Homo sapiens: one gene and its partners. The protein of the gene in region 4 interacts with the protein of the main gene of each other region in a biochemical or structural test. Each region holds a gene or a part of one and is shown on either strand. Other genes may lie near its edges.

The links. The genes of interacting proteins can lie anywhere in the genome.
Region 1: the proteins of PXN (region 4) and NLRP3 form a complex in vitro, tested with the Homo sapiens proteins (one study listed by BioGRID).
Region 2: of the proteins of PXN (region 4) and PTPN11, one has a biochemical effect on the other in vitro, tested with the Homo sapiens proteins (one study listed by IntAct).
Region 3: of the proteins of PXN (region 4) and PTPRK, one has a biochemical effect on the other in vitro, tested with the Homo sapiens proteins (one large-scale study listed by IntAct).

The regions. Positions count from the first base shown.
Region 1 is NC_000001.11:247,443,673-247,447,172, forward strand, and holds part of NLRP3 (NACHT, LRR and PYD domains-containing protein 3), read left to right. Parts: intron 1-299; coding exon 300-470; intron 471-978; coding exon 979-1,149; intron 1,150-3,500. UniProt on the Homo sapiens protein: Sensor component of the NLRP3 inflammasome, which mediates inflammasome activation in response to defects in membrane integrity, leading to secretion of inflammatory cytokines IL1B and IL18 and pyroptosis.
Region 2 is NC_000012.12:112,488,447-112,491,946, forward strand, and holds part of PTPN11 (tyrosine-protein phosphatase non-receptor type 11), read left to right. Parts: coding exon 1-64; intron 65-577; coding exon 578-729; intron 730-737; exon of another isoform or gene 738-1,542; intron 1,543-2,571; exon of another isoform or gene 2,572-2,978; intron 2,979-3,500. UniProt on the Homo sapiens protein: Acts downstream of various receptor and cytoplasmic protein tyrosine kinases to participate in the signal transduction from the cell surface to the nucleus. Positively regulates MAPK signal transduction pathway. Dephosphorylates GAB1, ARHGAP35 and EGFR.
Region 3 is NC_000006.12:127,978,600-127,982,099, reverse strand, and holds part of PTPRK (receptor-type tyrosine-protein phosphatase kappa isoform b precursor), read left to right. Parts: intron 1-810; coding exon 811-984; intron 985-3,500. UniProt on the Homo sapiens protein: Regulation of processes involving cell contact and adhesion such as growth control, tumor invasion, and metastasis. Negative regulator of EGFR signaling pathway. Forms complexes with beta-catenin and gamma-catenin/plakoglobin.
Region 4 is NC_000012.12:120,217,109-120,220,910, reverse strand, and holds part of PXN (paxillin), read left to right. Parts: exon of another isoform or gene 1-819; coding exon 820-1,704; intron 1,705-3,794; coding exon 3,795-3,802. UniProt on the Homo sapiens protein: Cytoskeletal protein involved in actin-membrane attachment at sites of cell adhesion to the extracellular matrix (focal adhesion). Recruits other proteins such as TRIM15 to focal adhesion.

The DNA of each region.
Region 1 (3,500 bases), on a different chromosome or scaffold from region 4:
CCTGGCCGGAGGAAAGCTGTGTGAGGAGGAGGAGGAGTATGGGGTAACTGGCTCAGTTTGCCTTGGCTCTTTCTGTCGGACTCATACAGCAAAGCATCTGCTGAGACATCATTTGTGTCTCCTGTGACAGCCAGAGACAGCAGGTCTTGCTCTCCCCAGATCATATCTGAGATGCTGGCTCCTGCTCTCTGAGCTGAAGGCTGCAGCTGCTGAGAGAGGACGAGGCACTGAGTCAAAGCAGCTGCACAATGTTGGGGAACAGCTGGGTACTGAGGACTCTTCTCCCTGTCCTTCTACAGGTTGGTGAATTCTGGCCTTACGTCAGTCTGTTGTTCAGCTTTGTCCTCGGTACTCAGCACTAATCAGAATCTCACGCACCTTTACCTGCGAGGCAACACTCTCGGAGACAAGGGGATCAAACTACTCTGTGAGGGACTCTTGCACCCCGACTGCAAGCTTCAGGTGTTGGAGTAAGTCCTTTGGTTTATTACAGCAATGAGAACACATGGTGGCCAAGGGTGGAGGGACGTTTAGGCAGAGTGGCCACAAGATAATCTGTATCTTAGAAGTGAGGTGTCTTCTTAGTGTTTGCCTTGTTACAGGATCATGGGACTGGGAGGAGTCCTTCCAGATGATATAGATGTAGGAACTTGAGTCCTTACCATCACAGTTTTCTGTACCACAAAACAAGGAGGGCAGTATGACACTTACATTTTATGGAAATGTAGGGAAAGGCACAGAATTTGGTAAATCAATGAACAAACCACTGTTACTAATTTGATCTGTGCAATGCAGTGGATTTGAAAAAGAGAGAGAAGAATAATTACCAGCATACAAGGCTGCTTGAAGCTAGTTAGTCCTGTGCTCCTGTGCTTTTTTTTTTTCCACCTGAAACAAGACAGGCTAAGATGCTAAAATCTTGGGGAGCTAGGGGGATGGTTAAGGGGACATTTTCTTTAAATCACCCCCTTTTTGCAGATTAGACAACTGCAACCTCACGTCACACTGCTGCTGGGATCTTTCCACACTTCTGACCTCCAGCCAGAGCCTGCGAAAGCTGAGCCTGGGCAACAATGACCTGGGCGACCTGGGGGTCATGATGTTCTGTGAAGTGCTGAAACAGCAGAGCTGCCTCCTGCAGAACCTGGGGTGAGTGTGCTCTGCAGAGATGCCCGTGGTGGGACTCTGAGTTCTCAGGAAACGTTGACTGTTATCAAAATCCAGGATGGCTCTCGCTTCATTTGCAGCCACTCAAGATTAGGTTGGGCCTGGGTCAGTTGTGGTGGATATTTTAAAATAGAGAATATGGGGTTAAACTACACATTCCACTTCACTGAGATGGTTAGAATCACCAAGGCTAAGCTGGATTTCACCCACATTCCCCAAAGAAACACAAGCCCTCATGCGATCATGGCCAAGGAGGATTCTGTTCTACACAAGGAACCGAACTTCGTAGAACTCGTCTATGGGTCATCCAAATTGGAAGGGTCTTTACATAGTGGGGATCTTGTTGTTTTGTTTCTGAGGATTTATTTTTTTTTTCCTTGAGACAGAGTCTTGCTCTGTCGCCCAGGCTGGAGTGCAGTGGCATGATCTCGGCTCACTGCAAGCTCCGCCTCCCGGGTTCACGCCATTCTCCTGCCTCGGCCTCCCAAGTAGCTGGGACCACAGGCGCCTGCCACCACACCCGGCTAATTTTTTGTATTTTTAGTAGAGTTGGGGTTTCACTGTGTTAGCCAGGATGGTCTCCATCTCCTGACCTCGTGATCTGCCTGCCTCGGCCTCCCCAAGTGCTGGGATTACAGGTGTGAGCCTCCGTGCCTGGCGGTTTCTGAGGATTTCTAAATGGGAAAAGAGTGCTCCAGGAATAGCAAGATGGGAAATTACACGAAATTCGACAGTGTGTCAGGATATTGCCAGCCCACCTCTGTGATACTACTGAGGTAGTCGTCTCCTCTCTAGCAAGAGCTTCCTGGCGAGTCCCACGGTTCTGTCAGCCGTGATGATTGCACTTTTCCCTGAAGACGTTTTCACTGCTTGGCTTTAAGGCCAACATGCTCTCCTGGGTTTTCTCCTATTTCATCAGATCCTTCTACTCAGTCTCCTTTCTGGCCTCTTCTTCATCATCCTGACCCTTATGTGTTGAATCCTCAGAGCTTAGTCGCTGGGCTAATTTTTCTTCCCTACACTTTCTCCCTCATTTAAATTATCTGGTCTTCTGGCTTCATGATATGTGTGCTGTGGCCTCCAGATTATATGTCCATAAATTCTGTGTCTCCGTGCTTGGCTGATCTTTCTTCTTGAAGGTTTAATAAACCTCTCAAACGTCACATCTAGATCCACACCCTTGCTACTCTCTTCTACCCGAAACCTGATTCTTCCCCATTTCAGTCGATGGTCACTTCCTCCAAGTTGCTCGGGCCAAAACATTTCTGGTTCTGTCGTCACTGTCTCTTTTTCCTTATAATCATGTCCAATGTGTCAGCACATCCTGTGAGCTCTGCCTTCCCAGCTTGGCCACTCCCTGACCACTTCAGGCCAGCTTCACGGCTTCTTCCTTGGCTCAAGCCACCATCACCTGGTGTCTGGATTGTCATGGTGGCATTCTGACAGGTCACCCTGCATCTGTTATTCTGATTTTAGCAGACAAGGGATTCAGCTAAAACGTAACTCGCATCATATCACTCTTGTCAACATCGTCTTCTTATCACTTTCATAATCAGAGCAACAAACTCATGGTGGCTTCCATGCCCCACATAATCCAGCCTCTCCTGCTTCCGAAGATTCCGCTTCTCCCAACCCTTGCTTATTCTGCCCCAGTACAGTGATCTCCTTGCTGTTTTGCAAGAACACTGTCATCTCTGGATTTTTGCACTTGCTTTTCTTCTGGCCTAGAACTCTCTCCCCTTCAGTATCCACCTGCATTATTCCCTGTACCTTCCTAAATTCTCTGCTTAAAGGTCTTCTCTGCGAGGCTGTCTTTGACTATTCTACTGAAAATAGAAGCACTTTTTCTTCTCTTCTCATTCTCCTCTGCAGTGTAGCACATCTTATGTGCTATGTCATTTTCTTGTTTATTTATTATCTATCTCTGCTCCCAAAATATAAATTCCATTAGTCCAGGGACTTCTGTCCATATTAATGATCTCAAGGCTGAGAACTTGTTGGAATGCAGGTTTGAATAAATACAAGTTTGAATCAGCCTTGCATCCTTGTGCCAACATAATGGAGCACATTTGCTGCAGGACAAGCCAATATTCCCAGAGCTAAGAGAGATGGGGGAACAAACAAAGGATTGGTCAGGTCAAAGCTGGGGACACTGCTACATGTAGCATCACTGACCTAGCCCTGAGGGACATTCTGGACCCAGGCTGAGGGACAGGCTCAAAATAGATTGAAGAATCCATGAATGCAATCAACCCGTTTTCTCAGGCTGCGATAACAAGCTGCTTTAGACTGTGTGACTCAAACACAGATTTATTATCTCACAATACTGGAGG
Region 2 (3,500 bases), 7.7 Mb from region 4:
GGAATTGGCCGGACAGGGACGTTCATTGTGATTGATATTCTTATTGACATCATCAGAGAGAAAGGTGGGTCATCTGGTGGGCAAGAAGCGACAGTTTCTGTTTTTAGTTTATGGAAGGAAAGTGCTCACGAAAACAGTCTGGGGAAGAGAGGTTGAATGGGAAAATTCTTTCACAAAAATCTGGGCTGAAGACTTCAGTGTGTCTGCCTGAGAACAGAAGTGACACTATTTGAGCTTTTGGCATAAAATGAAGTCTAGGAGCTGCAGAACCCACTGCCATGGCCTTTTGTTGCATACACAGTGGTGGTCTCTATCCAGCCACCTGACCTTGTTTACAGTATGGGGTGATTTGTTGGCAAGTGAGGGAATCCTGACTTCTGCCACTTCGTTATTTATGTAGTCTTCTGGGATCATTGGTATTGGTCAGAAGTTCAACACTGTAGCCATTGCAACATGCTCAGTTAAAACAGCAAAGACTAAATTAGCATTGTCTCTGAGTCCACTAAAAGTTGTGCATTAAACAACTTCATCCTGGCTCTGCAGTTTCTCTTTATTCTTCATGATGTTTCCTTCGTAGGTGTTGACTGCGATATTGACGTTCCCAAAACCATCCAGATGGTGCGGTCTCAGAGGTCAGGGATGGTCCAGACAGAAGCACAGTACCGATTTATCTATATGGCGGTCCAGCATTATATTGAAACACTACAGCGCAGGATTGAAGAAGAGCAGGTACCAGCCTGAGGGCTGGCATGCGGATTCTCATTCTCTTGCTAGGCCTCTTGGATACGCTCTCCTTTTGAGCAGGAGGACAGGCTCTGATAGACAACTGTTTGATTTCGGAATGGGAAACAAACTCCCAACTAAAAGGGCCTCTGGAAACTGTCAATTATTCTCCACTTCTCAGCTCTGATTTTTCACTGCAGAGGAGCTTAGGGAAGGGCACCATCCTATCAGCCTGGCCTGCCAGATTGAAGAACTGCCATGCAGAAAGGTTCTGATGTTCTCAGGCTCATGTGGCAAGCGTAAAACTCAAAGCCTTGAAGTTTCTAGCCTGTTCCAGCCTTGATCCAGGCCATGTTTATCCTGATTCCATCCTTTAAAACGAATGCCTCACTCTTAATAGCGCACGGCAGTTTGAACCACTAATTTGGTCGAGTTGGAAACAGTGAAATTTCAATTTTAATAAGCTGTGCATAATGAAGAGGAATGTGGAATTGGAGCCTTTCCATCTGAAGCTATTCATAACAGGCACAAAGCTGAGTTAATTAGGAATATGCTGAGATGAAGGAAATGAGGAGAGCTGCTCTTTTGGGGGCTGTGCTTCTCTCCCCAACCCCTCAACCCCATTGCCATGCTGCAGATGGGGTGGTGTCTAAACATCAGTGGCGAGTGCCTGCATTACTCTGCTCGTTGCCTTCCAGAGAACTCAGCTTCTCCAAATGCTGAGCTCTTTTCAGAATGGGACCTGCCACCAGTATTTGAAAGATTTCTAGCCTAGCAGAACAGCAGCCACGTTATCAAAGTTTGGTTGGCCAAAGGAAGGTACTTGCTAATTAGTTTAGTAGGTTTTCAGTCCGCACAGACATACGGGATTGTTTTATTGTACATAGACATCTTCAGAAACAGTGTATGTATAGAAATGTAAGGTCAAAATTTGAACCTCAGTGCTTTAAATCTGAATTTGTATTAACTGATATGAAATATTTAGACGGTTACTTTATTTTATATCTGTCTTCCATTATACTTAATTTGGCTCAAGAATAGTTAGGCAAAAAGTTGCCCAAAGAGAAGGATCTCCTAGTAAATACAAAGAGAATGTAACATAGTTGCTACAAGTTGGAGCATGTTCAGGGATGTCTTTTTTTTTTTTTTTTTTTGAGAGAGAGGTCTCTCTCTGTTGCCCAGGCTGGAGTGCAGTGGTGTAATCATGGCTCACTGCAGCCTCAATCTCCCAGGCTTAAGCGATCCTCCCACCTCAGCCTCCCAAGTAGCTGGGACTATAGGCATGCGCCACCACACCTAGCTAATTTTCGCATTTTTTGTAGTGTCACAGTTTCGCCATGTTGCCCAGGCTAGTCTCGAATTCCTAGGCTCAAGCAGTGCTTCTGCCTCAGCCTCTCTGAGTAGTTAGGACTACAAATTTGTGGCTCCATGCCCGGCTAATTTTTTTATCTTTATTTTGTAGAGACAAGGTCTCACTGTGTTGCCCAGGCTAGTCTTGAACTCCTGGGCTCAAACAACCCTCCCACTTTGGGTTTCCAAAGTGCTGGGATTACAAGTGTGAGCCACTGAGCCCAGTGACCTCTGGGTTTTAAAAATGTGTAGGCTTCAATTATTTATTTTAAAAAATGAAATCCTGCAATATATAGTTTTCTGCGTTGTGTGGTTTGAATCAATCTGGGAACTGGCTTGCTGGCTGATTGTGGTAAAGTAAGAAGTACTTAATTTAGTAGAAAGTTTAAATGGCAGACATAACATTAAACCCAGCTGATTTATAAATGAAGCAAAAGAACAAAACTCATTCAGGATAATTGGTTATTCTAAAATACAGTCATTTCTAAAATTATGAAGTGTTCAGGACCTTTGGGAGTGAAAGAATTTGCTAAAGAAGGATCAGTGAAAAAAAGGAATGATGGGTGAAGAGCTGTGGAGAAGGAAGAGAAGAAACAGCACAAGGAAGGAAGAATATAAAATCAGATGTGGGAATCCAGGGGAAAGTGCAAACGAAGCAAGATTGAGAAAATTCTCAAGTTTTTATAAACAGTTCTCACACTCTGCCAGTTCCTTGGAGGTAGACTTTTTTGTTAACTTCCAACTACAGTAGTGAAAAAAAAAAAAAAACCCTCAAATTTGCAAAAGCAGTCTGTGGAATTTTCTTTACCCAGCTTTCCTGACTGTTAACTTTTTAGCACACTTAACTTTATCATTCGTTTATTCTCTCTGTTTAAAATTAAAAATGTAAATTTTAAAAAGTAAAATGTTTGTTGGTTACAAACATTTATACCCCTTTGTCTCTAAATATCATTTCATTTTAAAAAATGAATAATCTAAGCCTACACATTCTAAAATGTGTATATTTTCTAAAAATAAGGGCATTCTCTTACATAACCAATGTCACAATTATTTGATACAGTGATCAAAATCAGGAAACTAACATTGATATAACACTATTATCTAACCTACAGACCATCTTCAAATTTTGTCCTGCTAGTATCTTTTATGGGTCCAGGGTCACACAGTGCATTTGGCTATAATGTATCTTTTTTCTCTTTTTTTGAGACAGGGTCTCACTTTGTTGCCCAGGTTGGAGTGCAGTGGTGCAATTATGGCTCACGGCAGCCTTGACCTCCTTGGGCTCAGGTGATCCTCCCACCTCAGCCTCTCGAGTAGCTGGAGACCACAGGTGTGCACCACCATGCCTGGCTAAGTTTTGTATTTTTTGTAGAGATGGAGCTTCGCCGTGTTGCCCCGGCTGGCCTTGAACTCCTGGGCTCAAGTGA
Region 3 (3,500 bases), on a different chromosome or scaffold from region 4:
TTGGGATGCCAAGGCAGGCAGATCTTGAGGTCAGCAGTTCAAGACCAGCCTGGCCAACATGGCAAAACCTCATCTCTACAAAAAATATAAAAAATAGCCGGGTGTGGTGGTGCATGCCTGTAGTCCCAGCTACTCAGGAGGTTGAGATGGGAGGATTGCTTGACCCTGGAAGTTTGCTTAACCCTGGAAGGCTGTGGTGAGCCAAGATATTGCCACTGCACTCCAACCTGGGCAACAGAGTAAGACCCTGTCTCAAAAATAATAATAGTAATAATAATAATAAATGAAGTTTGTAGTACATGTTATTTCAAAATAGCCCTAAATGTTTTCACTGCCCTTAAAACACCCCTGAAGGTGGGTGAAAATAAAATCAAGGGCAGAGACCAAATTCTTTGATTGTTGATCCAGTGCTCTTTCCAACATGCCATAGCTTATCTTCAAATATGGCAAGCCCAGATGTTACTACAAATGATACCGTTTCCCAGTGTGATGAAGGGTCATTATCATAATGGACTGCCCGATTGCATTTTCTTTGGTTAAGGCAATGCATTTTGCAGGTAGCAGTGTTGTTTAGCGTACCTTTTCCTTTTAAGAAGAGGAGCCCTGAACAATGTGTGTCTTGTTTCTTTGTCACTTCTCAGGCTTCATTAGCTTTAACTACAAGGTCTATCAGCCTGTCATAGTAGCAAATGCCATTGCCTCGCACAAATCCTTCACTTTCTACTTGGCCTTCTAAATTCCTGATGGATCTGTGTTATACTGTTAAATGGGTCACACTGTCTTTTAACCTGGGTTCTCTTTTCTTTTTAGACTCTGAATTCAGTCACCCCTCGACTACAAGCTGAAGACTGCAGTATAGCGTGCCTGCCAAGGAACCATGACAAGAACCGTTTCATGGACATGCTGCCACCTGACAGATGTCTGCCTTTTTTAATTACAATTGATGGGGAGAGCAGTAACTACATCAATGCTGCTCTTATGGACGTAAGAGACTGCCCTCTTTGTTAGTGTAGAGTGTTGTGGAAAGCTACATAATGCAACTGAACACTGGCTAGTTTTCTTTTCGAGGAAATTAAAATAACCTAAAAAGGAAAAGTGGAAACTTTTATTGAAACACATTTTTTTGGAAAATGATTTTAGGTTTTCCCTATAGAGATTCTTAAGAACTGTCATTTTTATAGCTTTATTGTAGATTTGGAGCTTGATTGTCAATTATTATATTCATGTAGTAAATATTGCAAGTTATAAATTTCATCTTAATTATTTTCAGAAAAGAAAATCATGCCTTATCTATTTTGAATATAATTAGAAATGAATTTTTTAAATCACAGAATGCCAAATCCTACAAAAATCATGTTAATTTGGGAAATTTTTATTTCTGACATTTAATGTTTCAATAATTTACAATTAATTTGTTGGCCATTAATCAATAAGGACTATTATAAGTAACTAGAGAGGGGATGGATGGTATTATGTTAACACATCCATCATAATGAAAGAACAATCTTGCCCCATTCTAAAATCTTAAATTGCAGGGTGTTATATAGCCCATAGACAGAACAATATGGAAAGAAAGTTTTCTGTTTTAGTTTTTGGTTTTTTTTTTTTTAGACAGAGTCTCACTCTGTCGCCCAGGCTGGAGTGCAGTGGCATGATCTCAGCTCACTGCAACCTCCGCCTCCCAGGTTCAAGCAATTCTCCTGCCTCAGACTCTTGAGTAACTTGGAATACAGGAGCGTGCTCTACCACACCCCGCTTATTTTGTTTGTTTGTTGTTGTTTTTGTTTTTGAGACAGAGTTTCGCTCTTGTTGCCCAGGCTGGAGTGCAATGGCACAATCTCGGCTCACTGCAACCTCTGCTTCCCAGGTTCAAGCGATTCTCCTGCCTTTGCCTCCCAAGTAGCTGGGACTACAGGCATGCACCACCATGCACGGCTAATTTTTTGTATTTAGTAGAGATGGGGTTTCACCATGTTGGTCAGATTGGTATTGAACTCCTGACCTCAGGTGATCCACCTGCCTCGGCCCCCCAAAGTACTGGGATTACAGGCGTAAGCCACCGTGCCGGGCCTTTTTTGTATTTTTAGTAGAGATGAGATTTCACCACATTGGCCAGGCTGGTCTCAAACTCCTGACCTCATGATCCGCCCACCTTGGCCTCCCAAGGAAAGAAAGTTTTAAATTATGACTTTGGCCACTTTACTTTGATTATGTTGGAAAGAAGCAAGAAAGCTATCATGGTTTATAATCTTTTTAAACAGTTTACTGCCTTCATTTCTAGCTTTTGCCCTTTCTCCTATGAAACCATATCAAGGAGAAATTAGAAGCCACGGTTCATTTCTTTCTGACTATAACAGGCTTTCTAAGTTATTGTTCCTGTTAAGCCCACATTCTGTTTCTACGAGTAGTCTTCACCAGTTACTTTACTCTTTTTGGTGCTGCAAAGCGGAATAGTCTAAAGGCAGGCTCTCGTCCTTGCTGTGGTCACTCTTGCCTGTGAAAAGCTCTCATCCTTGCTGTGATCGGAGTCTTGCCTGGCCATTAATCACATCCACTGAAATCACATTAAATCCTAATTATACCTTTTCTTTTTATATTAGGTGTCTGGAAAGGCAAATATACTAAATAGAGAGATGGCATACAATACTTTTTCATTTCTGCATCTAAATATGGAATAAAAAAAGGATGTGTGAACAAGAAAAGGAGAAAATAATAATATTTAGAAAAGCATTGATGCCTTTGAATTTTTTGCCATTGGCATCTTTGTCAAATTTTTCTCAATGTCCAGATTGTCTCCTTTTCTTTTCTTTTTTCTTTTTCTTTTTGAGACAAGCTCTCACTCTGTAGCACAGGCTGGAGTGTCGTGCATGATCACAGATGACTGCAGCCTCAATCTCCTGGGCTCAAGTGGTCCTCCCACCTCAGCCTACCAAGTAGCTAGAACTAAGGTGTATGCCATCATGCCCAGCTAATTTTTTTTTTATTATTTTTTGTAAAGATGGGGTCTTGCTTTCTTGTCCAAGCTTGTCTTTTTTTCTGTATGAAAGTTGAAGCTTGTAATCCACCTGCTCTTACTGTCTGCTTAATCCCCTGTGATTCAAAAAAAAGACATTTCATAGTTAAAGCTGTTCTGGGGATTTAGTAGTGCAAATGAACCGTTGGAGAAGTAAAGCTGGTTTGATTTACAAGAACAGGGTTTATTGTTCACTTCTTTCTCCCTACCCTTTATCCCCATCATTAGTACCCTTTTGCCAGGTCTATGAGGGATTAGGAGCTAGGGCCAAGAATTCTGTAATTTCAAAGCCTTACATATGTTCCTGCATTTAGAGGGAAAAAGAATAGGAAGTCTTCAGTCTTCTCCTCTCTTATCAGCTCCTCCTCATGCATATCCCCTCCCCTGTGGCTCAAAAAATGAGTAGATAGCCGTCAGTCTGCTTTGACTTACCTTTGCATGGAGCAGACATTTGATTGGAAGAAGAGCTTCCTTTCTTCTAACTTTT
Region 4 (3,802 bases):
TCATACTTCCACGTGGGTCAGCTGGAGACCTTTGGGGCATGACCTAGGGAATATGAGAGGGGAGTGAACGGTCCCTGCACCCTTGGCCCTGATGGTGTCTCCTAGCCTCCCTTCAGCTGAGGTTTCATGGTGGGAGACAGGAGTGTGGCTGGGGTGGAGGGTTGAGCCTGGCCCTGTGACCCTTGCGTGCTATAGTTCCAGCTCCAGGCCAGTGGTTCTGAGCAGCCATGGTCAGAAGCAAGTAAGTTGGATTCAGGGCCTGGCCTGAGGGAGCTGTGCCCCGGTGCTTTTAAGGCTGCCGTTTTCTCAGACAGCCTGTGTCCTGATGCCAGGAGAAGCAGCAGTGGTTTTAGTCAGATCCCTGGAGCAAGGATGTGGAAGACGTAGAGGACTTGGGGTGTAGGAAAGCTGGGATTGTCCGGAGGGACATGGCCGAGTTGGGCCAGTGTCCGAGGCGGGTTCAGCAGCCCCTGGGGCTGGCTCTCCCTCCATTTGTGCCTGGGGCTGTCTTCCGTAGCCACCTGGCTCCCCATTTGTCCACCTTACCGTGGTCTTTTCTTTCTCATACCCTCCCTGGGTGGCTCCACAGGCACGGCTTGGTGGCTGCTTTCTCTTGCTTGGGTTTGGTGAGGGCTAAGCACGCAAAGCCCAGGGAAGCTTTTTTGGGGTCTGGGTCTCCTTCAAGGGTCAGTCCTGTGCGTCAGCTTTGCAGCCACCTTGGTCAGCCCTAAGGCCGAGCCCACCGCCTGCAAGGTGCAGCCGTCCTCACTCCCCTCATCTCTCTCTCTCCTCTCCCCTCTGCATTTCTCTCTTCTCCAGACCAGCTCCTCCACTGTGGCTCTGAGTGCCCCGGGGCTGTCCAGCTCTGCTCCGTCCTCATACTGCTCCCTTCCTCCTTCTCCTCCTCCCATGCCATCTGTATTTCTGCCACCCACCACTATACCCTCCCCTCGAGGCCAGGGCCACACTCCGGAGTTCCCTTGTACTGAGCAGAGTGGACGAGGCCTTCTACCTCCTGTAGCCCCCAGCTGGCTTGATTTGGCTGGTCTTGGGGTGATGCCTGACACCTTCAACTCAAGGTCTCCCTCTGTGGAGGGTTCTCTGTGGGCAGTGGGCACAGAGAGTCAGGGTCGAGATTGGAGGCACCTGCCGACCATCACAAGTGAGCTCTCTGGGGCTCCCCGCTGCCACACTGTACCCTGTGCTGGGAGCACAGCTCTCCAAGAGCCTGGGGAGCCCCAGGGGCCACCAGCCAGCCCTTCGTGCCCAGAGGAGGCCTTGGCTGCCACATGGGAGCAGCCATGGGCTTCGGAGGTATTCGGGCCTGAGAGAATGCCCCCCTCTGGAGCTGCTCGAAGCTTCCAAGAAGTAACAGAGCCAGCTGTAGTGGCAGTGGACCGGCAGGCCATCTTCCCAGATACCTGGACTCTCACGGAGGAACATGGCCTACAGCAGGAGAGGCCAAGGCCAGAGCCAGGGAGGCTGGGAAGCAGCTCCCCTGCCTCAGTTACCACGGAGCAGCTAGGTGCAAAGATGACCGAGAGGGGAAGTGTGGCCAGGCCAACCCAGGGACCTGAAACCCCAAGGAGCCCAGAGGGCACCACGGAAGCTGCCACCCAGGACGGGAAGGAACAGCCAGAGCTTCCATGTGCCATGGCCATGGGCACACCCAGCACCACGGAGAGGATTTCCACCTCTGGCCAGGCAGGCACCAGCTCGCATGGCTGCTGGGCATGGCCATTGGCGGGTCTGAGTGTGGGCCGCTCCTCGCTAACTGCATGCAGCCTCCCACTCTGCGCATGTCTGCTTGGGCAGAAAATGCTGAGACACTGTGGCCGGACCTGACAGTCAGCACTTGGCAGTGGGCTCTGTGGACCCAGCATTTCTCATAGCGTCAACCCACCTCTTGCCTTGTTGAGGCTTTTTCCTTTCAGATGAGCTGTCCTTGACATTCTGATGTGGTGAAATGGTTAGCAGCATGGACTTTGGAACCAGATAGACCTAGATACAAACCACATGTCTAACACTTGCTACCTCTGTGACCTTGGGCAACCCCCTCCCTCAGCCTCAGTTTTCTCATCTGTAAAGTGGGGAGAATTTCCATCAAGATTGTCCGGAGACCTAAATGAGATAATTCCTGGAAAGTGTTTAGAACACAGCATGTGGTCCCTCAATAGGCCGTGGCTGACAGTACTTTTATTACTTGCTTTTTGCTTAAATTAAAACTTTATGCCGGGCCAGGTGTGGTGGCTCACGCCTGTAATCCCAGCACTTTGGGAGGCCGAGGCGGGCGGATCACCTGAGGTTGGGAGTTCGAGGCCAGCCTGACCAACATGGAGAAACCCCATCTCTACTAAAGATACAAAAAGATTAGCTGGGCATGGTGGCGCATGCCTGTAATCCCAGCTACTCAGGAGGCTGAGGCAGGAGAATCACTTGAACCCAGGACGCAGAGGTTGCGGTGAGCCAAGATCATACCATTGCACTCCAGCCTGGGCAACAAGAGTGAAACTTGGTCTCAAAAAACAAAAACAAAACAACAACAACAACAAAAAACTTTATGCCTCACCCTGGCACAGTAGCTTATACCTGTAATCCTAGCACTTTGGGAGGCTGAGGCAAGAGGATCGCTTGAGCCCAGGAGTTTGAGACCAGCCTAGGCAACACAGTGAAACCCTGTCTCTACAAAAAATTAAAGATTAGCTGGGCGTGGTTGCACATGCCTATAGTCCCAGCTGCTGGGGAGGCTAAAGCAGGAGGATGGCTTTAGCCCAGGAGTTTGAGGCTGCAGTGAGTTGTGATCGCACCACTGCATTCAGCCTGAGCAACAGATCAAGACACTGTCTCAAAAAAAAAAAAAAAAAAAAATCCCCCAAGCTTTATGCCTCTTTGGAAAACAAAACGAAACAACCAAAAACCCCCAAAACACTACCAACAAGTATAATAGCATAATATAATATTAGCATAATAATATAAATAAGAAAAAAAAAACTAGTTAAAAAAGTTCCTGGCTAGCTGAGCACGGTGGCTCACACCTGTATTCCCAGCACTTTGGGAGGCCGAGGCAGGCAGATCACGAGGTCAGGAGTTTGAGACCAGCCGAACCAACATGATGAAACCCCATCTCTACTAAAAAAAAAAACAAAAAACAACAACAACAAAAATTAGCCAGGCGTGGTGGTGCATGCCTTTAATCCCAGCTACTCAGGAGGCTGAGGCAGGAGAATCTCTTGAACCCAGGAGGCGGAGGTTGCAGTGAGACCAGATCGCGCCACTGCATTCCAGCCTGGGCGACAGAGCGAGACTCTGTCCCCCCCCAAAAAAAAGTTCCTGGAAGGAAACACTTTTTCTATTATAAATTAAAAAAAAGAAAAAAGAAAAAGCCGTATGCCTTGTCAAGGGCATGCACTTACATCCTCTGGAATAATTCTTGTGCAAACCCTGTGCGGTAAGCCAAGAAAATCTTGTGGTTCCATTTTAAGGAAGGGGAAGCTGAGGCCCATGGCAATTAAGTGTCTTGCCCAAGGTCAGTGGCCAACTTAGAGGTGAATGCTGGGTCAGAGGTCTCGCTCGCAGCCTGTGCTTCTGGAGCCAGTCCGATCTGCCCCCTCCCCTTGCCTCTACCCACCTCCACCGGTCCAATCTGCCCCCTCCCCGTGCCTCCACCCACCTCCGCTTGGTTCTTTGGTGGTTTTCTTTTGTGCTCCCTCTCCTGAGGCATCTGAGTGTGGCCTGAGCAGCGTTGTGCAAGCTGGGAGTGGGACGGTGACAGCCTCCCCTCCCCCTCCCCCTAGATCCGATC